2 separate regions of the Homo sapiens genome follow, and region 2 is linked to region 1. Evidence: fine-mapped QTL for protein levels in blood plasma. A gene starts in region 1. The other region holds a variant in brackets. All regions are shown on one strand. Distances are from middle to middle.

What was found. A credible set is the group of variants that fine-mapping cannot tell apart. PIP is the posterior inclusion probability: the model's chance that the variant is causal. Protein levels are from antibody-based Olink assays in UK Biobank. Linkage for the fine-mapping came from a reference panel and not from the study's own genotypes, which makes the PIPs less certain.
Region 2: its variant is the best candidate, but not a certain one, in a credible set for the plasma level of the CBLN4 protein (UK Biobank, PIP 0.51).

The regions. Positions count from the first base shown.
Region 1 is chr20:55,996,640-56,012,839 of GRCh38, reverse strand. It overlaps CBLN4 (cerebellin 4 precursor), which reads left to right and starts at 7,321. Exons shown (of 3, transcript NM_080617.6): 1 at 7,321-8,959; 2 at 11,993-12,109; 3 at 14,086-15,483. The coding sequence starts at 8,669. The coding sequence ends at 14,283.
Region 2 is chr20:55,475,093-55,491,292 of GRCh38, reverse strand. No RefSeq gene overlaps it. Among named protein-coding and RNA genes, the nearest start is that of LINC01441, 56 kb to the right of the region's middle. The variant G/C (reference allele first, on the strand shown) is at 8,663.

The sequences.
Region 1 (16,200 bases):
TTTTAGTGGTCATGTTGTAGGAAAATACTTTCCTTTAAACACTAGAATCACACACAACGGCACAAGCTGCTCATATCTGAGAGGCAGCAGGAATGGAGCAGCAACAGCAGATCCGCACTTCCCATCTCACGCTTACAAAGGACAGATGTTCACTGAGTGCCCTGGCGAGGAGAGTTGCCTATTGGACTGAAGCTATTTTTCTCTCTTCCCACAAACCACACGCGCTAAAGTCAGGAAAGTTAAAAGTGTCTAGGACTCTCCATAGTTGGCATACTAGCTCCTAAGATGCCCGTGTTGGCTCCTGGATATTTAACAACTGCCGTGTTATTTTCTGGTGTCTACCTGGCTTTCTGAACTCCTGTTTCTGTGGTGACTGTTTCTGACCAGCTGTTCTTGACTTTCTGTATAATTTCCACTTTGAAGAATCCATCTATTTCCACTCAATGCTTCTTTCAGATGAGACATAATGATTGAGAGTATGGGAAGAAAGAAATAAAAATAAAATTAAACCTGTTGTTCATCCCCTGTAGGGAGCTCACAAACATGCCTGGTGTCTTCGCTTCATTCAAGAGCTTTAGCTCTGCATAATGATAAGCATTGATCTATCAGCAATGGCTGGCCCTGCAAACTCGGGTGTGATTATTTTCTGGGCATCTGAACCTGGATTGTCTCTCACACTTGGGTACACTTCGTTTTCCCCTATTATAATGTCTGTGAGGTTAAGTTGGGCCATTGCTTGCCAATAGTTAATGGGCCTTGGTTTAGAGTGTGGTGGTTTGACACCTTTAGTCATTAGTAGAGTCTACAGATTAATGATAATAATTGCTACCCTTAATTGAGCCTTTCCTGTGTGCCAGGTGCAGAGCTAAATGCTCTGCCCAAATTTCCCCACTCAGTTCTCACAAGAAGCTATGGACTGAATATGATTTTCATGATTGCAATTTTCTTGGATGAAGGAAGGTTTGTAACTTGCTGTATGGTCATAAAGCTAGTAGGAGGTAGAGCTGACTCTAAACACCCTGTTTTTAACCATAGAGCTAAAAAACCCGAATGCAAATGGACTCTTGTGGCATCACGCCAATGGCATCTACAAAGTCAAACACCATCTGCTTCAGATTTACCTGGGTGCTGGTTAAGTAAACCTTCCCAGTTCATGGGCAGAGCCATTATCTCAGAGTAAGGCCAGAGAGTCTCTGTTGGAAAGAAGCATCCCAGCTGATTCTTACAAGTAGCCATTGGTTTGGACCCCACATTTAGACTCTTCTTATCTACACAACATAAACACGAGTGGCCAGGCACATGTCATACACCCAGCACTGAGCTATGGCTTTCCTAGATGCTAACATACTATATAAAGAAAGCCAAGTTGAATAAAATGTAGCGAGAAATTTTGACAGCATGCATCAGTGTTACTAGTTGCAATGGAATTTTTTTTCTTAAATGTATACTGTGAGGCTTTCTATATCAGAGCATCTTTCTAAACTTGGAGTAAGTGATTTTTAGAGTCGGATCAGTATAACAAAAAAGGGAGATTGCTGTTCAATCAATGCCACTTTTTAAACTTTAATTAAGAGTAAACTATGGAGAAGAAGTGTGAATGTGATAGATCACTATTGGATGATCTACTCAGAAACCCTTTCTTTTTTAAAAAATATTTTAAATGTGGGCTGGGCGCGGTGGCTCACGCCTGTAATCCCAACACTTTGGGAGGCCGAGGCAGGAGGATTATGAGGTCAAGAGATCGAGACCATCCTGGCTAACATGGTGAAACCCCGTCTCTACTAAAAATACAAAAAAATTAGCCGGGCGTGGTGGTGGGCACCTGTAGTCCCAGCTACTTGGGAGACTGAGGCAGGAGAATGGCGTGAACCCGGGAGGCGGAGCTTGCAGTGAGCCAAGATCATGCCACTGCACTCCAGCCTGGGCAACAGAGCGAGACTGCACCTCAAAAAACAAAAAATTTTCAAACGTGAATCACAATGTAATACACAATTGCTGTGAGCACATATATAATAAGGAAACATCTGAAATACAATTAATAGTGTTTCCTTCTATTCAATTCCTTTAAATTTGACAAGTTGTTGCCAACTTGTATTCTCTGTGTATTGAAATACACACATATCTGTACACACTTGCAGGGAATTAACTTGGAATCACACAACACAAATTAGTCTGCCTCTTGTTCTTCTTCCCTTTGCCACATATTGCTTATATTAGCTTTCTAGGATTTTTCCTTTTCCCATGCCCCGCCCCAATTTTCTACACACCTCATTGCTGGGATATCAGTCACGTGTGCAGCATGATTCTGTTTCTACAGCCAAGTTGATTGGTTTGGGATTGGGCATCTGAACGCAGATGGCTGCAGTGCATCTCTTCTCGGGGATCTGGGGGCATCTCTGAGTGGATGGCTTTGTTATGTGTGAAATCTGGAAGTATCAGCTGCCATTTTCCCTCATGCGGGCCTCAGAGAACGGTAGATTGCAGTGAGCCAAAGAATAATGAAGATGTGCCCAGGAGAGGGGAAGAGAGGGAGGGACACAGAGAGAGCAGAGAGAGAGAGAGAGAGAGAGAGAGAGAGAGAGAGAGAGAGAGACAGTGGGGAGAGAGAAAGAGAGAGATGGGGGAGAGAGAGAGAAAGAGAGAGACGGGGAGAGAGAGAGAGACTGGAGAGAGAGAGGGAGAGGGAGGGAGGGAGAGAGAGAGAGAGAGAATTTTTTAGGTTCTTTCTAAGATTTTACTACAGTCTCAAGGTTCAACTCAACACATTTCAAGATGTGGCCCTTTCCACAAAACCTTTTCTCACTGGGCTTCCATTCTTAGTAACTAAGGTGGACTTGACGTTTTAAGCCCCCAACATTTCTGAAATAATTTTACTTTTCCTATCATACTTAGATCATAGTGATTAAATGTTATATTGTTTCCCTTATGAGAACTAAAAGCAATGATGTTACTTTATTCAGTAAACTTTATTTATGCATACCTACTCTCTGCTAAATTCTGTCCTCCCAAAGAGTTAATGGTCCAGGGAAAACACAACAATAAATCAACTAAAACCATTATGATAAATATAATGACTGGAACATGCTCAGGGTATCATGGGAAGCCAAAAAGGGGCATCAAAACCTGTCTGCAGCCATGACCAAGACGTCTCACTTCTCACTGATGTCTTAGACACGTACCTTATTTGCCAATGGGGTGAGTGGAATAAACTATCTAGAAAAACTGTCCCAAACAATTTTCAAATTCTAAAACCAATTGAGAAGTATTTTTTACAGCATCCATCTATTTTTTTCCCACAATACCATCCTCATATGAAACAAGTCTGTCATTTGGCTGTCTCCAGAAGGAGCTATGAAGATTTACTCAACATGACTCTGGAACTTTCCAGACTATGTAAGTTCTCACATATTGGTTGTTCATGGAGACTTTTTCTTCTTCTTCTTTTTTTCTAATATACTTTAAGTTTTAGGGTACATGTGCACAACGCGCAGGTTTGTTACATATGTATACATGTGCCATGTTGGTGTGCTGCACCCATTAACTCGTCATTTAACAGGTATATCTCCTAATGCTATCCCTCCAACCTCCCCCCACCCCACAACAGTCCCTGGTGTGTGATGTTCCCCTTCCTGTGTCCATGTGTTCTCATTGTTCAATTCCCAGCTATGAGTGAGAACATGCGGTGTTTGGTTTTCTGTCCTTGAGAGAGTTTGCTGAGAATGATGGTTTCCAGCTTCATCCATGTCCCTACAAAGGACATGAACTCATCCTTTTTTATGGCTGCATAGTATTCCATGGTGTATATGTGCCACATTTTCTTAATCCAGTCTATCATTGATGGACATTTGGGTTGGTTCCAAGTCTTTGCTATTGTGAATAGTGCTGCAATAAACATACATGTGCATGTGTCTTTATAGCAGCATGATTTATAATCCTTTGGGTATATACCCAGTAATGGGATGGCTGGGTCAAATGGTATTTCTAGTTCTAGATCCCTGAGGAATTGCCACACTGACTTCCACAATAGTTGAACTAGTTTACAGTCCCACCAAGACTTTTTCTTCTTAAGCTACTTACTCTCCCTCAAAAAAGATCATTAGCTTGGGCTGATAACTATCATTATAAAGAGCAAAGGGTAATTAAGCAACTCAGTGGAACTTTGTCTGGGTATGATGCAAGCCTCACTGCTCTCTCTCTCTCGATTTTCCATCTTCTGCACGACTGACCTGCGGCTGTCTCTGCTGCATGATGCATGGAGTCTGCTTTCATTCAACCACAGTGAGGCCCTTAGAGCTGAATACCTTGTGTGTGTCTGTCTTTGCCTTCTCAGAAACATTTTCTTCACAGTCAGAAAATAGCTCATAGATCCTTACTGTCTTGGGCTTGCTTGAAACTTGGTTTCTCTAAAGGATGGCTGGACAAGCAGTCATTGAATTTACTGACCTCAGAAGTATTGCTTTCCTATGCAAGGATAGTTTAGATTCTAATTTACTTTAAAGTTAAGCCCAGCTGCAGAGAACTGAAATGCATTTCTGCGTCATCTCTAAAGGTCTAGGAGAAAAAAAAAATCCTAGGCATCAAATACAATATGGGAATCTCAGAAAGGGAAAATATTTGGGTCACTGCTAGGTCTTCTAATAGCATATTTTCAACTGGAAAAATACAAGAAAAAGAAAAAGAAAAACAGATCTATGCTGTGGTTGGAGAGAAACTTAAACTTGATCTTGTTTCTTTTCTCCTGGGGATGCTGGGGCTGAAGTAGGGGGTGAGGAACAGGTGATGCCTCCTTTCCCAAAATGTTGGAAAAGCATTTCCTACAGGCAGGAGATTGGATTTGTTAGTCTTTTGGCAAGAGATCCATAGCCTTTTGTGGTATGGTTTCTGGGACAATGTTCTAATGAGGATTCTGGATGACAGGGAGCGGTATGTTACTAAAACTAGCTCAAGGGAATTGGGTTTTTATTTCAAAGACATAGGAGGATACCAAGAAACCCAAGGTTAGGAGAAAATGTTTCTGGAACTCTTGTAAGCAAGAGTTCAGAACTGGCGATTGACTATTCACTCCCTGTACTTCTTAGAAGTGCTCATGCTCCAGAATTGGCTTCTTTCTACAAGTGTGGCCAGTCCTCTGGTTTATTCCAATACCTCTTCTGCTTCAGCTTGCAGATGACTCCTACATGGCCACGTCAGTTTGGGAGACTACAAACCTTGTCTCTGCCACATGTAGTGCTTACTGGAAGCTATTTTGATGTCTCATTAAGATTGCAGAGAGAAAATCTGGCAGCCCCAAGTCATCTGGCCAAGTTGGACCATACAAATCTTGGACTTCTGGTATCAAATGCATTGATGGTCCTAGAACCCAGGGGCTATCCGTGTTTAATCAACTGTTGTGGGAAAAAGAGTCAGGACCCTCTGATTCACAATATAAGATAACTTCTCTTAGCGGGGGTCCACAGAAAATGCTGTGTTCCTTATCTTCAGAACACTTTGAAGAGCAGAACATCCTTTAGTAAGGAACCGAGACCCTTATCCCCAATTATTAAGGAGGCTTTGAATTTAAATTTTACTGAGAGAGACTCATTTAAAGCAGTTTATACTATAATATGAGTGATAATTACCTTCTATTAGGAAGCATTCAGTCATTTCTCAATTATTGAGTCTTTACTATGGTCACTATGCAGATTTTGGGACTAAAAATGAATATTTTTGGTGAGAGAAAGAATAGGTTTCTTCAAATCTCAGTTCTTGCGTGCAGGAAGTGCCTGGAGAAGAAAAGGAGGTAGAGAGAATATATTGGAATTGGTGAGGAAGATAGCTTATTTTCTATTTAACAATTCAACACAGTTTTTTTTTTTTTTTTTTTTTTTTTTTTGTCAAACTTCTCCCAGCCTGAAATTGAACAACCAAAGTTCTAGTTATTGAACAGCTGTCCCAGACAAGGAAGGCAGGGTGCTTACCCCTACAGGAAATAAAAGGAACTAAATTCAACTCAGCACCCACCCTCAAAAGACTGCATCAAATGAGAAGAAATTGCTGCTGTTAACCAGGCAGACATCCCTAAAATCTGGAAGAGAGTTACAAAGTGCAGAGAGGGATCAGGTGAAGATTGTGCTGGGCTTAGGGTGGGGCATCAAAGCTGGGTAAATGGTGGCCATCTTCAGAAGGCACTAGTTCACCTTGTTTGGTTGTAGCTTAGATAGGTAACTTTCAACATTTTAACAAATAGCATGGTACTAGCACCTGCCAGCCGGAACTGACACCGGCCTGTAGTCTCAGCTACTGGGGAGGCTGAGGTAGTAGAATCGCTTGAGCCCAGTAGTTTTGCATCTAGCCTGGGCAATATAGCGAGACCACCCCCCACCACAAGTAAAATAAAATCATAAAGTCAAAACACCTGATACTGGCCCCACTGGAGCAGAATCTGAAGGCCCCTGTGGCACCAAGTATTAACACTTTAGTTGAGAGATTATAGGGAGGTGAGGGTTAGGGGATTCCTCGTAGTGTCTTCAATTTTAACAGTTGGAGCTGGTGCTTATAGCTCAATGCCCGGCCCTTCTGAAGGAAGGGAAAAAGGCTGGAGACGAGGTTCACCTTGTTTTGTGGAGGGCTCGAATGCCACGCTCATGAGGGCGTCCTTCACTCAGGAAGGAATGGGAGCCGTCCATCCCAAGGACCTCCCTCAATAAACATCCCTTCCATTCATAACTAGCCAATGCCATTTTAGGAGCTCCGAATGCCTGGAGGGGATACTGTTTTGGTTAAAGATACCATACGTGTCTGCCCTCTGGCAGCTGGAAGTGTAGAAGAAATTGGGGAAGGGGCGCCATGACCCCACAGCATCACAGAATTGGAAAGCTGGCGGGATGGGGGTGGGGAGGACCTTAGTTAACGCCGCGCCCCCCTCTCAGAGAGGGTTAGTGACTCGGCCAAGTTCACGCAGCCGGGTCCAGACAGAGACAAACCTCCCTTCCCCGTGGTAGCTGCAGAAGAGGAAGGGAACTCTTGCAAATCAGAGGCCAAGATAGCAGTGGAGTGGCACGGGGGCGGAAAGCGCATCCAAAGGGGAGAAAAATGCTGTATTCCTAGGAGTGGGATTGTCTTTTATTTTTATTTTTATTTTTATTTTTTTATTGTTGTTGGCACGGTTTCGGAGGACTTATTCTTGCTGAGTTAACTCCCTCTCCCACTCTTTTTTTTGGCCATGCCTGGGGAGGATTCGCGGTGTGGGGGGAAGGCGCGCCCCTGCGGCTTCTGAGGCTCATCTTCCCGGAGCGGAAGGAAGGAATCAGGCACCTCCTCCCAGCCGCCCCCACGGGCTCTGGTCCGCCCCAAGGCTTCCCTGAGCTCGCCAGGCCCCAGGGCTGTGTGGGGCGGGCTCCCGGCCAGGCGCGGTCGGGACGCCCGCCGGTCCCCAGGTTCGGGGCAGCGCGCAGCGCGGGTCCGCGGCGGCTTATCCTTTTTCGCGACCCGGCCTGGCAGCGCCGCGCTCCGCTTGGAGGGCACTCGGCGGCAGAGTTCCGCGCTGGGAGGGGTGAGGGGACCAGCCGCCTCCTCTGCGGACTCAGATCGAGCAGGAGAGAGTGGGCGCGGAGCTGGGGCCAGCGCAGGGCCGTGGGCTCCTCTCTGGGCACGCATCCTTTACGCCACGGGCTTTCAGGGGCTGAGGGGCCTCGAACCTTGCCAATCACCAGTGCTGTGCGCCCCGCTTGCTTTGGGGTGCGTTAAACGTCAGGAGAGAGCTGCTCAGATGGGGTCACCAGACGCCTTCTCCCCCTTTTCTCGGAGCCCGCGGGTTGCGCGATAAGCCAACCCAGCCGGACGCTGCGCTCCTATAAATAGAGCGCGTGTGCCCGCTTCGCGCTCTCCGGGCTGCACGAGGGACGAGAAAGTTGTGCGCAGGGACTGGGGGCGGGCGGCCAGGCAGGAGAGGACCCCGCCGGACCAGCCGCCCTGAACGCTGCGCCCGGCGCCCTGGACCTGATCCTGCGAATCCGCGCTTTCGGTGCGAGGGACCTGGCTAGCCGCTGCCTCCCTCCCTACCTCTGGGTGACACCAGGTTTGGGGGATTTTTTTGACCAGGCGAAAGTGGGAGTCGCTGGCGTCCTGGCCATGAACACAGCCTCGCGTTCTTCTCAGCCTGGGAAGGACCTTCTGCCTCTGTAACTCGTCCCTGCCGCAAGCCAGACAGGACTGGCACCCGCGCCGCTGGGCACCCGCCACCCTTGTGGCTTCTCTTTGAGTCCCCTCTTTTTGTTCCTGCTCCGTGGTTTAGCTGGTGGTGCTTGAGTTTGGGGTGAGAATTTATTATTATTATTATTTTTTGCCTTGAGGTGTGAATGTGAGGGTTTGATGACTTTCAGATGTCTAGGAACCAGAGTGGGTGCAGGGGCCCCAGGCAGGGCTGATTCTTGGGCGGAGGAGAGTAGGGTAAAGGGTGCTGCATGAGCTCCTTAAAGGACAAAGGTAACAGAGCCAGCGAGAGAGCTCGAGGGGAGACTTTGACTTCAAGCCACAGAATTGGTGGAAGTGTGCGCGCCGCCGCCGCCGTCGCTCCTGCAGCGCTGTCGACCTAGCCGCTAGCATCTTCCCGAGCACCGGGATCCCGGGGTAGGAGGCGACGCGGGCGAGCACCAGCGCCAGCCGGCTGCGGCTGCCCACACGGCTCACCATGGGCTCCGGGCGCCGGGCGCTGTCCGCGGTGCCGGCCGTGCTGCTGGTCCTCACGCTGCCGGGGCTGCCCGTCTGGGCACAGAACGACACGGAGCCCATCGTGCTGGAGGGCAAGTGTCTGGTGGTGTGCGACTCGAACCCGGCCACGGACTCCAAGGGCTCCTCTTCCTCCCCGCTGGGGATATCGGTCCGGGCGGCCAACTCCAAGGTCGCCTTCTCGGCGGTGCGGAGCACCAACCACGAGCCATCCGAGATGAGCAACAAGACGCGCATCATTTACTTCGATCAGGTCAGACCCGGGGGGAAGCGAGCACCTAGGGGGTGGGCGGTCTCCAGGCACCTCAGCACGAGGCTGCCTGCCCAGGCTAAGCTGGTCCGATTGGGAAATGGGGAATCATGTAAAGCACTCGCCTTCCCAAATATGCCTGGGTCTGAAACTTCTACCGTCCCTCTTCCTACCCCTCTCACCAGCCCCGGCTCCCATTTCTTCCGGGCCCCTAAAAGAGGCTGCTGCGGCGGCGGGGGAGAGGCTTGGGAGCCCAGAGCCCGGCAGCGAGAGCTCAGGGCAAGTTTCGAGCAACAGGTCGGCGGGAGCCGAAGGGCACCTGGTCCCTGGACGTCGTTATCTCTTGGCCAGATCTTGGTGCCCTTGCTCAGACTCCTCTGCGGGTGCCGCTGAGGCTGCTCCCTGGGTACCTTTGCGGAACAGGATAAATGTTTGATTTGTTTCTCCCAGGTAGAGAAGCTTCTCTCCCAAGAGAGCCCCGGGCTTCCACACTCTTCAGAGATCGGGCAGGTGGCCGCGGAGGGCGGGGGCAGAGCCGGGGGTCAGATCTCGCCTGCAGGTTCCACTGTTCGTGTGCCAGGCACCGCTGGCACTGCCGCTGCCTCGGAGTAGGCAGCAAGCCCTTCTCCGGTACTTAGAGAAAAGTTGCGGAGGAGGGGAGGAAAAGGAATTTGGCAACTGCGCTGAGCTCCTGTAGGAAAGCGCTTGGGAGCCAGTTCTCCCTTCCCGGGCTCATGTCCTTTCAGAGAATTGCAAATAGCTGGGGAAAGACAGACTTTGAGGTTGATGAGAGTAGGGGAAGAGCTGACGGAAGCTGTAGCTGCTGTTTAGCGACCTGGTGCTCCGTGTTTGGCTTGATGAGAAACCCCAGGATATCAGCTTACCTTTAGCAAGGGGTCTTAAGGGAGAAAACTGTCCTCAGAGTTTTTAATTTCAGCCCCAACAGTATCCAGAGTCTTTTTAAATTCCAAATTCACAGTTCACAGTTGTATGCAAAGCTGCAATGTGCAGGGGGCACAGGTTAAGTGGTGTTGCAGGATGTGCCAGGGAAAGCACGAGGTGACATCTGTATTCCTTGCTTAATTTTTCCTAACTAATGCACTCTCCAGCTGGCCAAAGACAGAGAATGCCTCTCTAGGGGCTTAGTATTTGATAGACATAATTTTTAAAGAATTAAGTAGCTCCATTTGGGGTTTTGGTGCAGTATTTTCCATCTTGATGGAAATAAAGTCTAGCACCACCCCTAGTTTGTATTTCAATGCTTTAATTAAATGTTGGAATACTGTGGGCATTGCACTATCCTCTATACAGGGTGTTCCTTTCAATGACCTTTCCATCAATTAGAAGAGGAAAAGGGTTTGTTCTTCTTTTCAGTGAGCCTTGCATCTTAGAGACAAGAACACACATTTGGTTATAAATCTCGATGTACCTGGATGCTCCAATTACAGTGTAGAGTCAACATCCAGTTTTATATGTAGCCAACACTAATCAGCTATTTTCATTATTGCTAATGAATTATGCTACTTGTATCTGAATCAGGAAGTCACCACTAAGCACCTCAAATTATTTTAATTGTGCTTGAAAAATTTCTTTGTAAAGCCTCTGCTGGGGATTATTGCACAGCTGGTGACTTGTTGAAAGACCATCTATCATCAGGTTACAAAAAAAATCTGATGCTTACTTGGAAGAAGGCGAAATCTCAGAATGAAATTATACACGTACATGTGTTTTAAGTTAGGTGTTGAGCCTGATACATCTGCTTGACTGTCACTACATTCTGGTATGTTGCCCAGAGGTAATAGTACATTTTTAGGGAATTATGCAAGAGGCTTGCAAGTGTGTTAATATTGGCAAGAATGCAGTGTTCGAAAGAGATAGTAGCAGATTGCCATTGATATATGAGAAGTATATCTTTTTAGGGACCTCTTATTATTTTTGAATGCCACTTACAGGTGTATTTCTTGGAAAGAAATGGAACAAACCCTGGTTATTTTAACATCCATCCTCCATCCCAATCCCTCTTTCTCATAGAAAGAGACTTACCCATGTGACATTGCAAATTTAGCTTAAGAGGTCACTTATTAAAATTTAGAGTTAATTTTATAACCAATAGAACTAGGCTGAATATTTTGGAATACAAAATGCATTGTTGCTTTCTTGGGAAACAGTATCTAATTTCACTTTTGAACCTTGAACTTCAAATAAAGAGCAGGTGATTGATAGGAGGTTAATGGACAGCCCGGGGAGGAACAGGGAAAGCCACCTATTTCATAGTTTAGCCTTCTCTATGCTCTCCTCTTTGGCAGCCCACAAGGGCTGACTCATTGCCACATTATTATAATTAAGGCCTAGCTGGCACAGGAATGAAAAAAAAAATGGTAACAGATCTTAGGAGAGGGGTGGTGGTGGCTCAGAGAAGGGCCAGGCATTCAGATCACTTTGTGCACCAACTGTTCAGTGTCAAGGATTATGTCACATGGTGGAGGGGGTACCCATGCCTCTGTGGTTTGTCCAGGGATGCTGCGGAGAGCTCACAGATGCTGATTGGCTGGCTTGGAAACGTCACCTCTGGACATTGCAAAGGCTTGTAGAAGGTGGGAATGTAAACACATAGCGGGTGCCTTTTATCCAACTCTCAAGGTAAAGCTAATATTTATAAGTTCTCAAATGTTAGCTCGATGTTTCCAGAGCCATTGGGCCTTGCTGGAAATTGAGACATGAATACAAAGCAGTTACTTTATTTATTCTTATATCATTTAAAAGACAGAAGAACCTTCCAGTATTCCAGTCAATTTTCCAAATCAGTTAAGAGGAAAGATACAGAACTAGATGTTTTATTTTCTATGATTTCTTAAGCTAGTTGCCAAGAATGAATGAATGAACAAAAGAAAAAAGAAAAGAAAGAAAGAGGAAGGAAGGAATGAAGGAAGGAGGGAAAGAAGGAAGAGGAGAGGAAGAGAGTGAGAGGAAGAAAATTCATTTTAGTTACAGAAGAAAATATAATAACTTATTGTTATTTATTATTTTTATTTGTAGATCCTGGTGAATGTGGGTAATTTTTTCACATTGGAGTCTGTCTTTGTAGCACCAAGAAAAGGAATTTACAGTTTCAGTTTTCACGTGATTAAAGTCTACCAGAGCCAAACTATCCAGGTGTGTGTTTTGACCTCTTCCATCCATACTCTCAACCAACTGTGCTTATCTTTAGTGGGTTATATATTTAAGTACTTATCCAAAGTTGTGTTTCCACAATAGAAATAAGCAGCCATCTTTATCATTTATTTTAAAACACTTAATTTCTAATTTTTTTCTCTTTAACATCCATTAAGACGTGACAAAAAGCGTATAGAAAAATAGAGAATTGAAGTTATTACCTTAATAACAATCAAACATTTTTTAAAAATCCATGGTTGAGTAAAAATTCAGTGACACAAATCTCTTTGTAAGATCATGCTTTCATTTAATGCATGTACAAGAATTACTTGAACTCATAAGAAAAAAACTTGTAAGACTAGTACAGCTTTACAAGTGCATACTAAATAAATAAAACACATTTGCTATTTTTTAAAATTATGAGATACAGCTAATCAGTAAGAATAAGTCTATGAAGGAGGAACTATTCAAAATACATTTTTAAAAAACGGTGTTCTATGCGTATGCTTGTGTTTATCCTCAGTTACTCTGATGCTAGTGAATTCTTACCAACTGCAGTTCCACAGTTAATATATTTTGTGTTCTGCTTTCTAAGACAATGGGCTTGACCTTACATTCAAAAGCAACAGTGGAGCTTGTTCCAACAATATTCCAGTATGCTAATACTAAATGACACAAATACATGTGCATGGAATTCTAAGATAACCTTTTATCTTATGCTCAGTATTTATGTTATACATTATGTCAATATGAATGATAGATTACATGCTTATCTATTAATACTTTTACATGTCCTAGTAAATGGATAAATGGATCAGCCTCAGATTTAATTTATTCCATATGACTTTTAACCTAAAAAAATCTAGAAAACAAACTTACTTCCATGGAAAAGTTTTCCCAACCCCCAATATTTAGAAATGTATGCAATGCTTGACACAGTGTAATCAAAATTGAAGAATAGAAAATAGTTAATACAGTTTTGAGTTGATTCTAATTATCTGTCACTGAAATCTCTAAAATTTAAAATCTAAATCTAAAATCACTAAAATCACTAAAATCAGTGATAGTGGTGATTATTATTTTTTATTTTTTGGTTTTTCTCTGAGATAGGGTCTCACTCTTTCACCCAGGCTGGAATGCAGTGGCATAACCATAGCTCACTTCAGCCTCAAACCCCTGAGTTCAAGCAATCCTCCTGCCTCAGCCTTTTGAGAAGCTACGACTATAGGTGCATGTGACCAATCAGGCTAATTTTTAAATTTGTTGTTTTGTTTGTTTTAGAGATGAGGTCCTGCTATGTTGCCCAGGCTGGTCTTGAACTCCTAGCTTCAAGTGATCCTCCTGCCTTGGTCTCCCAAAGTGTTGTAATTACAGGCATGAGCCACTATGCCTGGCCTGATGATTGTTTTTGATGCTTGTTTCCTATCAGGGAAAATAGAAAAAGAAATAAACACACACAGACACATATATACACAAACTTCATTATTTCAATTGATTTTCAGTAGTATGCATGTTACAGCTGCACAAAAATTCGCAAGGATGTTGGTAGGATTGGGTTGTATCTGGGTCTCTTATGTCAGTGGGCAGAGGGTCTCTTTTACGAATGTACCGGGAAGCCACAAGCCTGCTCTATTTCCAAAAGATTATTGTTGGGTGGAAGAGTTAAGTAAAGCAGTAAGCTTAATTTATGTGCTGAAGGGAAGCTAGTTTTCACATGGCTAGGTTGGTCTCCATAGATGTTATTCTTTTGTAGGAATTTAAGGAAATTCCAATCAGAAAAAAAAAATTAAAAAAATCAGTTCAGCAGACATGTGAAGTATGGCCCCCACAATTGGCTAATTTGAAAGGAAGGGAATATATTTCCTGAACATCAGGTATTTTACTGGGTCTATCATCTTAGACATTATTTATTCTCCCCAGTAGATGTTTTGACTTTAAAGAGAACTTTTCAATTATTATTATTTTTCTTCTTCTAGGTTAACTTGATGTTAAATGGAAAACCAGTAATATCTGCCTTTGCGGGGGACAAAGATGTTACTCGTGAAGCTGCCACGAATGGTGTCCTGCTCTACCTAGATAAAGAGGATAAGGTTTACCTAAAACTGGAGAAAGGTAATTTGGTTGGAGGCTGGCAGTATTCCACGTTTTCTGGCTTTCTGGTGTTCCCCCTATAGGATTCAATTTCTCCATGATGTTCATCCAGGTGAGGGATGACCCACTCCTGAGTTATTGGAAGATCATTTTTTCATCATTGGATTGATGTCTTTTATTGGTTTCTCATGGGTGGATATGGATTCTAAGGATTCTAGCCTGTCTGAACCAATACAAAATTTCACAGATTATTTGTGTGTGTCTGTTTCAGTATATTTGGATTGGGACTCTAAGCAGATAATACCTATGCTTAAATGTAACAGTCAAAAGCTGTCTGCAAGACTTATTCTGAATTTCATTTCCTGGGATTACTGAATTAGTTACAGATGTGGAATTTTATTTGTTTAGTTTTAAAAGACTGGCAACCAGGTCTAAGGATTAGAAAACTCTAAAGTTCTGACTTCAATCAACGGTTAGTGTGATACTGCCAAAGAACTGTATACTGTGTTAATATATTGATTATATTTGTTTTTATTCCTTTGGAATTAGTTTGTTTGGTTCTTGTAAAAAACTTGGATTTTTTTTTTCAGTAACTGGTATTATGTTTTCTCTTAAAATAAGGTAATGAATGGCTTGCCCACAAATTTACCTTGACTACGATATCATCGACATGACTTCTCTCAAAAAAAAAGAATGCTTCATAGTTGTATTTTAATTGTATATGTGAAAGAGTCATATTTTCCAAGTTATATTTTCTAAGAAGAAGAATAGATCATAAATCTGACAAGGAAAAAGTTGCTTACCCAAAATCTAAGTGCTCAATCCCTGAGCCTCAGCAAAACAGCTCCCCTCCGAGGGAAATCTTATACTTTATTGCTCAACTTTAATTAAAATGATTGATAATAACCACTTTATTAAAAACCTAAGGTTTTTTTTTTTTCCGTAGACATGACCACTTTATTAACTGGTGGTGGGATGCTGTTGTTTCTAATTATACCTATTTTTCAAGGCTTCTGTTGTATTTGAAGTATCATCTGGTTTTGCCTTAACTCTTTAAATTGTATATATTTATCTGTTTAGCTAATATTAAATTCAAATATCCCATATCTAAATTTAGTGCAATATCTTGTCTTTTGTATAGGTCATATGAATTCATAAAATTATTTATGTCTGTTATAGAATAAAGATTAATATATGTTAGTTGAATTGTTTTTTTCTTTCCGTTTTGGAAATATGTATTCTACATTATTTATTTCCTCTTACTTTGTCTCTTCTTAACCCTTTCTTCCTTCTTTGCTCCTTTTTTCTTTCTTTCTTCCTTCTTCCCTTCCTTTCATCCTTTCATCCTCTCATTTCTTTTTTCCTGAAGTCTAAGAAAAGCTTTCTGAATTTTCAGGTAGTGTCCTCTGAGCTGATATAGGAAATCTTTACTGTGTTTAATTTGTCCAAATGTAGGAATTGCGAGCTTGCCAAAAGAGAATCAATGAACTTAGTAAACTCTTCTTTCAGAAGGGCTGATTGTTAAAAAGTTAAGTTTAGAAGATCCCCTAAAATATCAGGAGGATGCTCAATGTATGAATGAGTGGTGATGAGTTTAAAGACCAATATTCTCATACTGAAGACTTTGAGGAAAAGTTCTGCCCTTTTTTCAACACTAAAAGACAAACAGAGGATCGCAGGCCTCTTCTTAGGAGGAATTATTATTACACCTGCCTTATTTGGAGATTTGGCTCAATTTCCTGGTCTTTAGTCCATTAAAACAATTTTTGGGGGGTGGGGCAGGGGGCTTTTGTATTTAGTGGCAACAGGCAAGGTATTATAGGGAGACACATGCATGCATGTCTTCCAGGATAATTGTGTTAATTGCCAAGTCAAAATATTCATTCATCACCAGGAAGACTCCTCTTTCTCTGAAAAAAATTATCTGCAGATGCTGGCAATGGATCCTCAATGTTTTGCTTGGCAAGTTGTCTTCTGTTGGCTTCCTGTCAAAAACCTTT
Region 2 (16,200 bases), 520 kb after region 1:
TAGAAACTCAAAATATGATCTGTGCTCTCATGTTTATTGCAGTGTTATTCCCAATAACCAAGACATGGAAGCAACCTAAATGCCTATGTACAGATGAATGAATAAAGACAAAGAAAATGTGATATGCACATACAATGGAATATTATTCAGCCTTAAAAAATCAATAATTGGGAGGCCGAGGCGGGCGGATCACGAGGTCAGGAGATCGAGACCATCCCGGCTAAAACGGTGAAACCCCGTCTCTACTAAAAATACAAAAAATTAGCCGGGCGTAGTGGCGGGCGCCTGTAGTCCCAGCTGCTTGGGAGGCTGAGGCAGGAGAATGGCGTGAACCCGGGAGGCGGAGCTTGCAGTGAGCCGAGATCCCGCCACTGCACTCCAGCCTGGGTGACAGAGCGAGACTCCGTCTCAAAAAAAAAAAAAAAAAAAAAAAAAAAAAAAAAAAAAATCAATAAATCTTATCATTTGCAACAATATGGATTAACCAGGAAGACATTATGCTGAGTGAAATGCCTGTCACAGAGGAAAAAATACCTCATGATTTTATTTGCATAAAGTATATTAAATAGTTGAACTTATAGAAGCAGAAAATAGAATGGTGGTTTCCAGGGCATGGGGGAGAGGGAGAAATAGAAAATTGTTAAATAGTTATCAAGTTATAGTCATACAAAGTAAGTTCTAAAGATCTGCTGAACAACATAGTGTCTGTAATTAACTGCTGCATTGTACACTTAAAAACTGTACCCACAAAATTAAGAATAAAAGAAATAAAAACAGTTAAGAGAGTAGATCTCATGCTAAATGTTCTTACCACAAAAATTATAAAGGTACAGAAGAAAATTTGTGAAGGTAATGGATAGTTTATTACCTTTATTATGATGGTGGTATCACTGGTGTATGCATATATCCAAACTCATCAAATTGTATATATTAAGTACATGCAGTTTTTATATGTCACTTATACCACAATAAAGCTGTAAAAATAACAATTTAAAGTGAGAATTTTAATTTTTGAATGTTAGACCATTTGCCTTAGTCAATGGTTGGTGATCAGATTTTTTTCCCTCTTATTAAATTTGAAAGTCCTTCAGAATAGGACCCACATTTTTTAAATAATCAGATCTTGGCCTGGCGCGGTGGCTCACGCCTGTAATCCCAGCACTTTGGGAGACCAAGGCAGGCAGCTCACGAGGTCAAGAGATCAAGACCATCCTGGCTAACATGGTGAAACCCCAACTCTACTAAAAATACAAAAATTAGCTGGGTGTGGTCATGTGTGCCTGTAGTCCCAGCTACTCAGGAGGCTGAGACAGGAGAATCGCTTGAACCGGGGAGGCTGAGATTGCAGTAAGCCAAGATTGTGCCACTGCACTCCAGCCTGGTGACAGAGCGAGACTCTGTCTCAAAAAATAATAATCAGATCTTGATTGTCAATTAATTGTTGTATTTAGTTAATCCAGAGGCCAGCAAAGTCTCAGACCCATTAGATTAGAACATAGTGGATATGAGTACCACCCAACACGTGAGGAGAGTTCTGTTTCCTTTTTTGGTCTCTTCTGAGACATTAGAGGTTTGGCTCCAGCTTTTTCATCATCTCTAGCTCCAATAGTCTCAGATAATAATCAGCTCAGGATTCCTCCATCAACCTCTGGTCATTCAGCCTTTCAGTTGAGTATGAGCCATCTATCCAGGTAACACTCCTGGTTAGGATGCAAGACAACCCAAGGTCCTTCTCTGTCACTGAGATGCCACCCATGTTGACCAGTGAGCATTCATGCACTTTTGTTGTGGCAAACCTGGGGATCAAAGGCCATTCCTTCACAGCAACTGTAAGGCCAAGTGGCTAACTGTGCAGAGACATGATCCTTTCACATTTCTCAGGCCTAGTTGCAACAGCAGCCTCCTTTGTCCCACAAGCTCAAAAACACATGAAGCCTCCACCTCTTTCGCTAGGATTGAGGTGACAGAAAAGTATTCCATGCCTTCCTAGTTGGGGTGACAAGACTCACGGTATACCTATGGCTCTCTCTAAAATCCTCCTCTCCTCTCCAACTCTTCTGTCTCAGCCATTCAAGCTTCAGTTACAGCTGGAACAGGATACACAAAAGTGGTTTCCAACTACCTGTAAGTTTGTAAGTTTGACTTTTGGAATATCACTTTGGAATATAAAGGTACTTTCCATATTGTCTCTTTGCCTCAGCCAAACTGGAAGGGAGAAAAAATCTATTTTACTGTATTTTTATAGAGAGAAAAAGTATTACTTATTTTGTTCTGCAGTTCAAATCAAGTTTTTTTTTTTTCCTATGGATTCGCCTCTATCTTTACCTGAGGCCTATTCATTAAAATTCACCTCTTTTATCAAAGTAGTTTTCTTTGCAAAGATAGCACCTTCCTTATGAGGGATTTGAGGCCAGCTGTGTGAGTACAACCAACCTGAATTGCTATTCTGTATTTCCTCCTTAGAGCAAAGTGGCTTTGGATAATTAACCTCTCCTAGATTTCCTTTCCCTTTAAGCAAATGCTAACAATGACCTTTTAAGGAATGTTTTGAGAATTAGTCATGCAGGTCATAAAGACTCAAACACAAGGCTTTGGCACAATAATGACAGTTTCTGCTATTTTACTAAGATAATTTCTCTGTTATTCCTCTTCCTTGAGTGTTTCTCAACTTCTCCCCTTCTGACACTGGGGGCCAGGCCATTCCTGTTGTCCTGTGCACTATGGGATGTTGATGGTATCCTTAGCGTGTCCCCACCCAACGCCAATAACACCTCTCCCTACTCATTTGTGACAACCAAAAATGTCTTCAGACACTGTCTAATGTTCCTTGAGAGGAAAACCATTTCTGATTGAAAACCACTGCTTTAAAAAGAGAAATTCTATCAATGTTTAATGTGTGTATATACATATGTTTATATGCATGTAAGTATGTGTTTATGGGTTGTCAAAAAAGGGTGACTTCTAATTTTGTCTTTAAATTGTTTTCAACCAATGTAATAGGATTCATGCCTTGTAGGTCCTCTTTTTATTTCACATTTTCTTTTATGAAAGGCTGCATGGGCCTTACTTGGTTTCTTAACCTCACAGTGCTGTCTCTACAGAGACACTGATCACATGCCCCTTCTCCACCAAAAAGCACTGTATTTCATGTTCGGCTCTATTCCCATTACTGACTGACAGTCTGCTCTTGAATTTCAACAAAGGGCAGCAGATGATGTGGTCAGAAAGTTTTCAGGTTGATTTAAATACAACTTTGTAGGTCCTAGATTGTTTTATATAGATCAATATATCCATCATCTAAAAGTCATTTTAATCAAGAAGAAAATCGGACATGTCTCAAATTCTACAACCCAGGACCATATGGTGGGACCTCTAAAGTGCATCCTAGTTCTAAAATTCCCAATATTTATAGTCGCAGCCACAACTTCCCTACCCCTTCCTCTCTCCCATAGCACCTTCCTGTCTTCCACTCTGCTGGACCCCAAGATCTCTAAAATACTCAAAAACATCCTCTGTGTCAAAGAGGTAGAAATGATCTAGGAGGCAGGGAATTTCTTCAGTTCAAAGCTAGATCTTCCCCTCCCCCCCCCTTTTTTTTTTTTTTTAAAGATGGAGTCTTGCTCTGTGGCCCAGGCTAAAGGGCAATGGCGCAATTTTGGCTCAGTTAACCTCTGTCTCTCGGGTTCAAGTGAATCTCCGGCCTCAGCCTCCCGAGTAGCTGGGACTACAGGTGCATGCCACCATGCTTGGCTAATTTTTGTATTTTTAATAGAGCTGGGGTTTCACCATGTTGGCCAGGCTGGTCTTGAACTTCTGACCTCAGGTGATCCTCCCACCTCAGCCTCCCAAAGTGCTGAAATCATAGGCATGAGCCACTGCAGCCAGGCTTAAAGCCAGATCTTTTTCTTTTAATTTTATAGCACATTTTAATTTGAAAATATTTTTCTTATACCCATCTCTAAATTTTATATTTCCCTGAAGTTCCTCAACTCAAATTTTTCCTCCTGCCTTCTAGGGTGGATGGCTGTCTCTCCTTGTCTCTTCCTCCTCTGTCTCTCCCCATTCCCTTCTCTTCCTTTCCCTCCTGGTTTTCCTCAGTCTCTCTCTCTCCTGCTATCCAAGCACACATTCATAAGCTTTCTACCATTTTTTGTCCTTGTTACCTATGGCAGACACTGTGGACTCTGCTTCCAAATTAAACATAGTGCTGCAGATGTTGTAGCTTATGAGGTTTAGGGCAACAATTTATCTTTTCTTCCCCCCTGTTGTTGTCAGTGCTGCCCTCCAATTCTCCACCCTTCAAAATTATGGACAGAGAGGATGAGCAGCTGCTTTTCCTGCTGCTCTGAATAATTCATGCCAGTTTAGCTTCAGCTTGGTAATATCATTGGCCTTGTTTAATACCAAGGGGAAAGAAGGGCCTCTTGAGATTTCTCAAAAGTGTGAATTTTCAAAGAATAATTTTTTTTTCACCTCCAGATTGTTCAATATTTTGTTCCAAAAATAAAATAAAATAGTCAATGGAACATAAATTCTTTCCAAAACTCTTCCTGAATATGAAATTAATTGAGCATGTTACTTATCTTTCATTTGGGAACTATGTTATCCAGTCCATAATATATATTAGATATTTTCTATGCTACAGGTGCTGTGTTGGGCACTGGAGGGCTGGTCAAAACAAGTGGATCCCACCCTCAGTGAACTTACGCACTAGGGGAGGAGATAGACGTTTATCAAGATAACTACTCAATTACCACTTAAAAGACTATGTGCATCCCCCGGTAAAACAGGGGCACCCACTATATTAATTTATTCTACAAATACTTACAATCAAAAGCTATGTACCAGACACCCCTAGATGCTCAGAAAGCAGCAATGAGTGAGCAGGAAAAACACAATGTTTGCCTCTATGGGCCTATAGTCAAGTGCAGGATCCAGACCTTAATCAAATATTCACACGCGCATAAGATTGCGATGAGTTCAATGAAAGAAAGTCTCCCAGCATATTTTCTGGATGTTCACATATATCCATTTATCCACTCCTTCAGGCAGTGTTTACTCATTTCCTTCTCTGTGCTAGGCACTTGGATTTTATAGTCAGCTAAGTTAGATGTGTTCTCTGTTCTCATGGAACTGCAGTGTAGTGAAGGAGTGAGTAAAGAAGCAAAGATATACATGCTTCAATATTTACAATCAAGATTTGTTGTGGGTCTAGGTTACAAACAGGCAATATGCTAGGCTTTTTACATGAATTCTCTTATTTAGTGCTTATAACTACACCTGTGCTATGATTAATTGTTTTTTTTCTTAACACATGTAAAACCTGAGTCTGGGAGTTAGAGGGATATTTTCAAGACACAGTCTGATCAAGCCACATGCAGGCACCACCATTCATGGCTTTCTACTACTTTAGGATAAAACTCAATCTCTTACCTGCTTATAAGGACTAGTATGAGCTGCCCTTGTGTTGAAAGAGACCGGCAGGGTGAGGAAGAGACTACTGATCATATATACAAGGCTAAGACTGAATGCAAAGACCTATTTCTGACCTTAAATGAACTCTTTGACATACATAATTCTGTGCCTGTAAAAAAAAGTCTATTCAGCCCTAAAAGCCCGTGAAGCTTCAGCTTCATTCTAGTTTACTATGACTTAATTCCGTGCCAGGCCCTAAGTCCAAATTGGCTTGATCTTTAAGAGTTGCTTGTTGTTTATTTTATACCTCTCATCAGTCCTGGCACAGTAACCAGGCTGAACAATAAGTGGGAGTAGTTACAAAACCACCTCATAGGAATTAAATAGAGAAAGTATTTCTGTCCACACATCCAGAGGAGATAGCTTGACCTGTCTCAGAAGCAATTGGATAATACTCGCAAAACTACCAAATTAGAATGAAGGCTGATATGTCCAATCTGTATCACCCTCAGGCAATTTCCATTGAAAAGAATAATTATATTTTTCATAAGTTAACCAGCTCCCAAGCCTGGAAGAACAGGGCTTGCAAGAACAGGCTGCAAGTCTTCCAGAATTGCCGGGAGGCTGCACCTGTGAGATGATAATTATATCCGAACACTCTATATGCCCACCTCCGTCATCAGGCAGTTCCTCTTGTGCATTGTGTGCTAATAAATATGTATTTTAATGAATTAATCATAGCATTGCTTTAGGACTTGAATGCATTGGTTTTACTGAATATTGTGTGTTAAAATACCTGGTACTAATATGCCTGGTACTAAAAATGTCCATTCTTCCTTTCTTTGCAAATAAAGGTAATAGTTTTCACCATTTCTAATCAGATGTGCTTTTTTTTTTTCCATTTAATAGTAAGGGATGATTTTTTAATGAAATGACTAAAACTCTTTGCCCATGCAATTTACCTAGATAAACGGTTATATTTGGGTACATAGAGAAGCTGAGTAACCATGTTGCCATTAATATCATTTTCTACCAGTGGACTCATTAAGTTTAATGGGGAAAATAGGTAACCAAACTGCAGGTCACACTGTTCCAGCCTGTTTTGTGCAGGGATGTGACCACTGCATGGCCAGATAATTTTCAAGGGAATCTAATTATGTAGATATTTATATGTCTGTGTATTGTTAAATATTGGCCAGAAAAACTTAAAGTAACAACCAACCTTCTGCAGCTGGCTAAAATGTAATAGAAACTGGATTCACTATACCCCCTTGAAACAACAAAAAAAAAAAAAAAAAAAAAAAACCTGGGCAGAGATAATACTTAATGCAATATTTTTCAAAGCATTGGGCATGCTTAACAAATAGTAATCTCCAAAAGGCAGGAACATGGAAAACCCGTTAAAGAAAAAGTGATAAATTTGACTTCAAAATTAAAAACTTCCGCTCTTCAAAAGACTACATGAAGAAAACAAAACGACTGGCACCTATCTGATAAAGTACGTGTGTCCAAAACATATAAAGAACTCTCCAAACTCAGTAAGAAAAGAAAGAACTCGACAGACAAAAGATTTGAACAGATTTCACCAAAGATATACAGATGGTAAATTAGCACATCAAAGGATGTTCAATATTATTATTAATGTGAATTAAAACCCCAATGAGTACCACTACAACCTATTACAATAGTTGAAGTTTAAAAATTGACAATACCAAACAATAAGTATGTGAAGGAATTAGAACACTAATAAAATGGTGATTAGAAATTAGAAGGTCACGACCACTTTGGAAACACAGTTTAACAGTTTCTTAAAAGCCTAAATATACCTATCATACGATCTAGCCATTCTACTCTTAGGTATTTACCTAAGAGAGAAAAATGTACACATTATTCTCTCTTAGGTAATGCTATTCTGTACAGCCTGTGGAACCATAAGCCAATTAAACTTCTTTTCATACAAACATTTGTGCACAAATATTCAGAGAAACAATTTGCAGTAGTCAAGTAATAGAAATAACCCACAAATCCATCAATAGGTATGGTAAACAAATTGTGGTATATCTATACAATGATATACTACTCAGTAATAAACAGAAATGAACTATTAATACCTGCTAAAACCTGATGGATTACAACATAATTATATTCCGTGAAAGAGAACAAAAAATAATACATCCTGTATGATGCAATTTTTATAAACCTTTAGAGAGAACTAACCTACAGTGATAGGAAACAGACTGAGGGTTGCTTAGGTAGGAGAGAGCTAATACAGAGAGGCATGAGGATACATTTGGAGGTGATGGATATGTTCACTATCCTGACTGTGGTGATGATTTTGCAGGCATACACATACACAGAATTCTATCAAATTCTACTTTTTAAATATATCTGGCATTGAATGTTAATTACACCTCAATAAAAAAATGTCATAAAACAGAAACAACATGAGTAAAAAACAAAAACAAAACACCATTCTGGCAAACAGTGATCCCTGGGGCTGTGAGTTTGCAAATTCTGACATCTATGTATATGACTTGCTTTTGGGGTAATACACAAATACATATACTAAAATGCAAAATGGAATGCTTGCTAATTGGAGGCTCTTTTGTTTGATTCTTTCAAGTAACACAGGTATCATTTCTAACTCTGTTGAACGGTCCAGACCAAGGTTCCCCTTTGTGAATGGTGTGATGGCCTCTTTTCAAGGTTTATGATTAAAGTCCAGAATCTCTCAATAGCAAATGATAGCATGCCAGGCAGAATTCGTTTTTCTTTTGATGTTCACACATAATTCCTATTCATAATAGAAGGAATTACGGGTTTAATAGTGTCCCGAATGTCTGCCGATGCAGTCCTTTTTTTAACATGACTTTTCCTTGTAGAAGAGATGCCCTCATTGATATTGTGCTTTTGTTTGCCAAAGGAGCGCAGAAGACATCTTTCTGAAAGATTTCACGACACTTAAAAAAAAAAAATGAAGACTTGCTCAGAGTTTTTTATAAATGTAGCGGTAGAAACTCATTTAAAACAGTAATTTATAATCTATGGATTGAAGGAACTGGACTTGGCAGAGTGTGAACAGAAAATAATTTTATTCTTTTTTTCTTCTGCTCCTTCAAACTCCTCTTCTGTGCTATCCCCTTTTCTATCCTGGATTAAGTCTTTTGCAAAACACGTCATTTTTTTAATGTTCCTTCAGTTAGAAGAAGAGTCATTTTGGTAAATAAAAAGCTCCATCCGTGCTATA[G/C]TAAACCACCAGTCCTTCAGCAATCTTAACTCTTCTCTCTCTCCATTCACTTGTAGACTGGGTTCTTCCTTCTTCCTCAGGGTCCCTTCCTCCTCACCAGCAGCTACGTATGGTTGCTATAGGGTTGGGTGCATGGAGGAGAGAGGAGTAATAAGAAAAATAAAGGTCTTGCCAGAGTGGAACTGTCTTAAATAAGTTTCTACTGCTTATTTAATTTTTTATTCTACCTCATACATTTATAAAAGACACTCTGAGGAGAGTTCATTTTTTTTTTTAAGTATTGTGAAATCTTCAGAAAGGTGTCTTGTGCACTCCTTTGGTGAAGAAAAGCACCATGTCAATGAAGGAACTGTTGTAATCTGGCTTTGGACCATCATCTCATCCGAGTGGAGGACCAATTTCTAGGGTATTCTTAAATCTCTTAGAGGGGTCCTTCTGGAGTGTCCAAACTTGTTCACTTGACAAGAACAATGCCTTCTTTATCATCAACTGGACTTCTTCCTCGGTGGACACTGGTCCTCTTGGCTGGGTCTCTTCTATTTTTTAATTTTAATTTTAATTTTAATTTTTTGAGACAGAGTCTCGCTCTGCTGCCCAGGCTGGAGTGCAGTGGCGCGATCTCGGCTCACTGCAAGCTCCGCCTCCTGGGTTCACGCCATTCTCCTGCCTCATTGGCTGGGTCTCTTCGAAGACAGCCCTGGAACAGCTCCCTTCGGGCATGGCAGGCAATGTCTGGTCCACACTCTCTTGCTCTACATTTAATGAAGGTACAGTCAGCTTGCAATGCACCTTGTTCTCTTTGCTCTATTACCCTCTCCCTTCCTCTTTAGATTCTTCCATTGAACATCAGATACTAACTCCTGTGTTCCCCAAACTTAAGGAGGGCATAGGTCTAGTTCCCAAAATGGTCCTTTTAAGAAAATCTTCGTCTCAGTTGGCTGAAGGTAAAAAAGACGCACCTTATTTTATTTTTCCATTGTGGTGTGCGGTTATAAAATACACAGCACAGCTACTGTTCTCCCTCCAATAGCCTGATCTACCAGCCCTTCATGTAGCTAGAATCTTATGCAAGTAATATGTGAGCAATGAACTACCTCTGGCAGAACCTCCAGGGTCATAATGTCCGCACAGCTGGTGAGAACTTTACTTAGAATAGGATTCCTATCATAAGGACTCCTCTTGTCCTGTTCTAAGCTTTGGAAAACAACCAAAAGGCAGCAGAAGGCAACCTTAGAAGTCATACTTAACTACACAAGTATCCACAGAAAAAGTGGTACAAAAAAGAATAATAGTCACAACTAGTCAGTGTCTTTCTCTTTGCCCTACTCTCCAGTAACCCAATGATGAGATTATACTCCAACTTTCAACTCAAAATTAGTTTTGTGAAAATCTAGTTTATAAGTTTTGAACCTTTTCTTACATTACCATTAATGAAAATTGGTAAAAACATGGCCTGGAATAAATTAAGCTTAGAATTTAAATGAATGTCATCTCATCTTCAGTTGTCAACAACATGCAAGTGAGGTAATTAAATCATCTCAGATTTTCTGTGCTAAAATATCCAAATGTTTAAGAGGAAAGTAGGTGGGTGGTATTGTGCTGTTTTTGTTTAATTTAAATTAAATAATTGGCCAAATTACCATTTCTTAAAAGACTCAGGGAGCTTAATCTGGATTCAATTTTCACTGCCTATTTAATAAGGCACATGTTCCAAGAACACGGGGCTAGACTGGGTACTTGCTGAACTGCCAGCTCTTTATACTAACTGTACTAGTCCATTCTCGCACTGCTATAAAGAAATACCCAAGACTGGGTAATTTATAAAGACAAGAGGCTTAATTGGCTAATGGTTCCACAGGCTGTACAGAAAGCATGGCTGGGGAAGCCTCAGGAAATTTACAATCATGGCAGAAGGCGAATGGTAAGCAGGTACGTCTCGTATGACTGGAGCAGGAGAGAGAGGGGAGCAGTGCCACTTTTAAACAACCAGAACTTCTGAGAACTATATCATGAAACAGCACTACAGGGACAGTGCTAAACCGTTAGCAACTGCCCCCATGATCCAATCACCTCCCACCAGGCCCCACCTCCAACAATGGAGATTACGACTGGACATGAGATTTGGGTGGAGACACAGAGCCAAATCATATTATCACCTTACGATTACATCTCTGTGATACGGTTTGGCTGTGTCCCCACCCAAATCTCATCTTGAATTATAGTTCCCATAATCCCCACATGTCATGGGAGGGACCTGGTGGGAGGTAATTGAATCATGGGGGCAGTTACCCCCATGCTGTTCTTGTGACAGTGAGTTCTCATGAGATCTGATGGTTTTATAAGGGGCTTTCCCCTCTTTGCTCGGCACTCATTCTCTCTCTTGCTGTCCCGTGAAGAGGTGCCTTCTGCCATGATTCTAAGTTTCCTAAGGCCTCCCCAGCCACGCGGAACTGTGAGTCAGTTAAACCTCTTTTCTTTATTAATTACCCAGTCTTCGGCAGTTCTTTATAGCAGTGTGAGAATAGACTAATACAGCTTTTTATTTTTTAAGTGGCATATTCAGGTTAGAGAACTCCTCTCAACAGCTTAGCTGGTGTCTGTCCAGACTTCCTTCATTTATACACAGACAGACCTATACACACATACACGTGTATACATACATATAAATAACCATGCACTGGCACACACATAAGCACATACAGTGCTTGTTTTCTTTTTAAAATAAAGGACTACTCTAATTTTGCAATTGGCTATCTGGTTTTTGTTTTGTTGTATTCTTTCCCCCTCACTCTGTAAATCATGGCCCTCCTTTGGCATAGGTGTGTATCATCTGTGTTCCCCTTTAATATGACTAATCTCGCTAATATTTATTAAGTTAATTTATTTACTCATTCTATTCTTGTTGGTCTTTTGGGCATTTTGTAGGTTTTTACAATGCTGCAATAAATGTCTGTAAGATTTAAAATATGTATGTGACATATCTTTTAGAGTTATCATCACCTTTGCTTTTATTTTGATAATTTTAAAAAATATGTAATCTAGACAATAATTAAGAATAACGACAATTTCAAGAGTGAAAAAAGGGGACTGTATCAGTAGAGGAGGTTTTTGTGATATCTTTGGTCATGATCAAGCAAGAGAAATAGAATGAATATAACCAAAATGCTCTCCCAAGGGGAGTAATATGCCTGCCCTTTGCTCAGACTTATCTGGAGACGTTGCCTTGTAAGTACCAGATGGCCTATAATACTTTGGATTTATTTTATCATTTTAAAAGGTTAGAAAGAACCAGACATTCAGGCTGTTCCTCTGCTGGACACGAAGGATGTTAAAAACTTTCCATGATCCCAATGAGGGCCAACTGACTTTTGGTCCCTCTGAAAGTCCTAGAGAGATTATCTTTGTCCTTGGGAAAGGGCCAGTTTGCCTTCTGTCTATGCTCATTTTGGGAAATATACTCATTATTAATCCAGACACAGTTCTCAAGCAAATGGAATGAGCAAAAAGGGACCACCAGATTGATGGTAATAAGAATCTTCCATGTATATAGATAAGATAAAGGGGATTACATTATCTGCATGTATACATTAAGTGTTCATTTTTCATATAAATAGGTCTATTTAATAAGTAATGGCACTGTAGTCCATTAAGTTTTGTGGTGAATACATCCCTCCTCCCTCTGAATCTTGTTTAAGTAAAAACATTTGGTTGGGTAATGTGACCAATGTACTTTAGGGTAGCAATTTATGGTACTCTCTTATCAGAAATTGCTTCCAAATGCCTCATATCCATATTTGAAATTCTGCAGGCAACAATTTTCCTAAATCTCACACATGGAGCTATGTGGCAGATTGCTTTAACTGACTTTATCAAGAAGCAAATAAAGAGTACATGGGTAAAATGGAGGAAAACCAAATAGAAATAATATGTGAGTATCAATTTTTACAAGGTTATTACATGTAATTTTACACTAAACATTTTTAATTAGCCTATTTCAAGCCACATTTTATTGTTAATATTATCCCAAGAATATTGGCTAGGTCTATGCTTTTTAAAATAAATGTATACAAATATGTAGATGTCTTTGGATTTTCTGTTCCTTCTTTCTTGATTCCCATAAATCCCTTTTATGAGGCTATGTCGGGCTCAACATTTGGTTATTAGTCAAATTCACTTCCTCCTGTTAAAAAGGACAGTTCTGGGTCAATTGGCAAATTTAGAATATGGATTGCTTTGAGATTCTAGTTTTGTATTAATGTTAAATGCCTTAAATGTAATATTGTGTCATGGTGATGCTCCAAATGGCACTGTTCTTAGCAAACACAGGCTGAAGGATTTAGAAGGGTCAAGATGCCTGTAACTCTTAATTGGTTCACAACAAAATTGAGATAGAGACATACAGAAGAGGGCAAAATGTTAGCAATTGGTTAAGCAAAGTGGAGGAAATATGGGAGTTCATTATACCATTTTTGCAGCTTTTCTGTAGATTTGACATGTTTTCAAAATAAACAGTTAAGAAAAACAAAATCACTTCCTCAGAGAGGCTGTCCCAACTGGGGCTTATGTTGGGAAATAATGCCATTGCTGCTCTATGTATTCTAAGAATCTAACATTGTCATGATGATTATTTATAATTTTAACAGCTCTACCTTCTGGATATAATTCAAGTAGACTATTTTAATCATGACTACATCCTAATAGCCTATAATGGTAAAAGATGCTCCAAGAATATTTTTGGAAAATCTGAATAAATGGCAGACACATATTAGTTACCCAAAATGTTTCCAAGATTTCTGTCCTTACAATGATTGATTGTCACATCTCAGGAAATGCAAACACTTTAACGTGTACATATAAGATGTTTCATTTCAACACATATACACATAACACTAATCCATGTGTATAAACATGACCAAGAGTATGGTGCACCGTAGAATCCAATTTATTTTTAAATTCACCCACTGTTTTGGATTATCCATGCTATTGATCTCATTCATTGGCAAAAGAAAAAGATAGTAATTACCTGAATTTCCTTTAATAGGCGCATTAAAAACCAACATTGAAAAATATCATTGGTATAACCATTGGAACACTGAGGCAGTGTTACTAAATATTTACATATTTTATGAAAAATTTTAGAAAATTTATACACGCTTAGAAAAGATTTCTGCTCAAAGCAAGCAGATGTATGAAACATGTTTCTCTTTGTCTAATACAAAAGACTAGCAGCATGTCATTTATCTGTGCCTTTTATCAGACAACTTGTGACCAATGTTCAACCTCTTTCTTCCTAATCTTAGCTAATTTTCCAGCATGAATTGTACAGTTGAATCCGATTTGTTTTATTTTATTATTTTGAATATTTCTATCTTTCCTTTGGACAAGGAATATTTATTCACCAAGGAATAATAGCTGCAAATGTTAATGTCCAATGTTAGTTATCAAGTCCATCTTAAACAACACATGGGGTACATACTTTTATGCTTTGGAGTGTTTTGATTTTTGTTGGGCAAAACAGGCATCTGGCACATCAAAGAAAATAATCCCGGTAAATTGAAAGGATCCCTCAACCTAAAATAATGAGCTTCATGTGTGTAGCTCATTTTTTTGTTAATTGCTCTTAATTTATTCAGCTGAAATACCTTACAGTTTTCCATGATTAAAGGGCATGATGTTTGACTTGTCATTAAATTAGTTTGATATTGATACAAATGAGCTATAAAGTATCTTCATGATTGCTTCCTGAATAATGTGAATGTATTTTCTTTTGTTACTTGCTCAATAAAGAATGAAATATACCTAATCTTTGGGTTTTGAAACAAATCTTTTGCAGTTTAAAAATGAAGGAAAGGGGAAATTAATCAGCAAGGAATGCATTTCCACAAAGAAATTAATAAGCTTCCACTGGTAATGAAGCTTATTTATTGCAATGCAAAATGAGTAATGGTAGGCATTTCCATTTCCATCTTAAACCTGATAGAAATATTTTGGAGGCTGAATCAAGAGGATTGTTTGAGGCCAAGAGTGAAGGCTAGACGGGGCAACAGAGTGAGATCCTATCCCTACCAAAAAAAATAACAACAACAAAAGAAAAAATAATCAGCCAGGTGTGGTGGCTCATGCCTGTAGTCCTAGCTACTTGGGAGGCTGAGACAGGAAGATTGCTTAAGCCCAGGAGTTTGAGGCTGCAGTGAGCTATGATCACACCCCTCTACTCCAATCTGGGCAACAGAGTAAGACCTTGTCTCTAACCGCCCCCAACCCACCTCCACACACAAATCTGACAAATCTCCATCAAAAATGAAAACTATTAGCTATAACTATACACAAGAAACTCTGTATTGAGCAGTGAGTGGCCCAATCTACAGTATCACATTTACTAAGTCTGCTGCTATTACCTATAAGTGTGTGTATTAGAAGACATACAAAAAGTTATTTTGCTGTATGATTTAAAAAAGAGAAAATATATGAAAATATATACCATTATTAGGCATGTCTCAGGTAAAAATAACTTACCTTTACTAAAATTTTGCCTATATCCTTAAGCTATAGAGAAACCTATTTGTCAGCATGCAATTCAGGGCTTATAACATATATGTAATAGTTTTTTTTCCCTATAGAATAAGAAAGACACCTCGAAAGGAGAACAGCTGGTAGCCTCTAAATGTTGAGGTCTTGCCCCTGAAAACACTGAATGAGATGCTTCCATTCCCTTTCCTTCAGTGAATTTTCCATGTTTCTAAAAGATGAGCTAGTAGCCCCTTATTGAGAACATATTTAGGATTTCATACCTGACTACACCAATTCACACCCGTTTATTCCATGATCCCTCTCTCCCTTTATTTCTGACCACATCTTTTTAACTTTTACATGACTGTCAATCTTTTTGTGTTTCTGGTTACCTTACTTACTTTGTCATAGGAAATCTAAGTTAAAACTGTCCAATAGAAATTAGATGTGAAAGCCGGGCGCAGTGGCTCATGCCTGTAATCCCAGCACTTTGGGAGGCAGAGGCTGGCAGATCACCCAAGGTCAGGAGTTTGAGGCCAGCCTGACCAACATGGTGAAACCCTGTCTCTATTAAAAATACAAAATTAGCCACGCGTGGTGGCACATGCCTGTAATCGCAACTACTCGGGAGGCTGAGGCAAAAGAATTGCTTGAACCCGGGAGATGGAGGTTGCAATGAGCAAAGATTGCGCCATTGCACTCCAGCCTGAGGAACAAGAACAAAACTCTGTCTCAGAAAAATAAAATAAAAAATAAAAAAGAAATTAGATGTGAGCCATAGATGTTACTTAAATTTTCTGGTAGTTGCGTTTTTTAAAATAGTAAAATGTAGAAACTAATTTTAATATATTTTATTTAACCTAATACATCCCAAATATTGTCATTCCAATATGTAATCAGAAAAAAGAATTAATGATATTGTTCTTTTTTTTTCTTTGATGCTAAGTCTTTTTTTTATTTTAGGTCGAGTCTCACTGTCACCTAGGCTGGAATGCAGTGGCATGATCTCAGCTCACTGCAACCTCCAA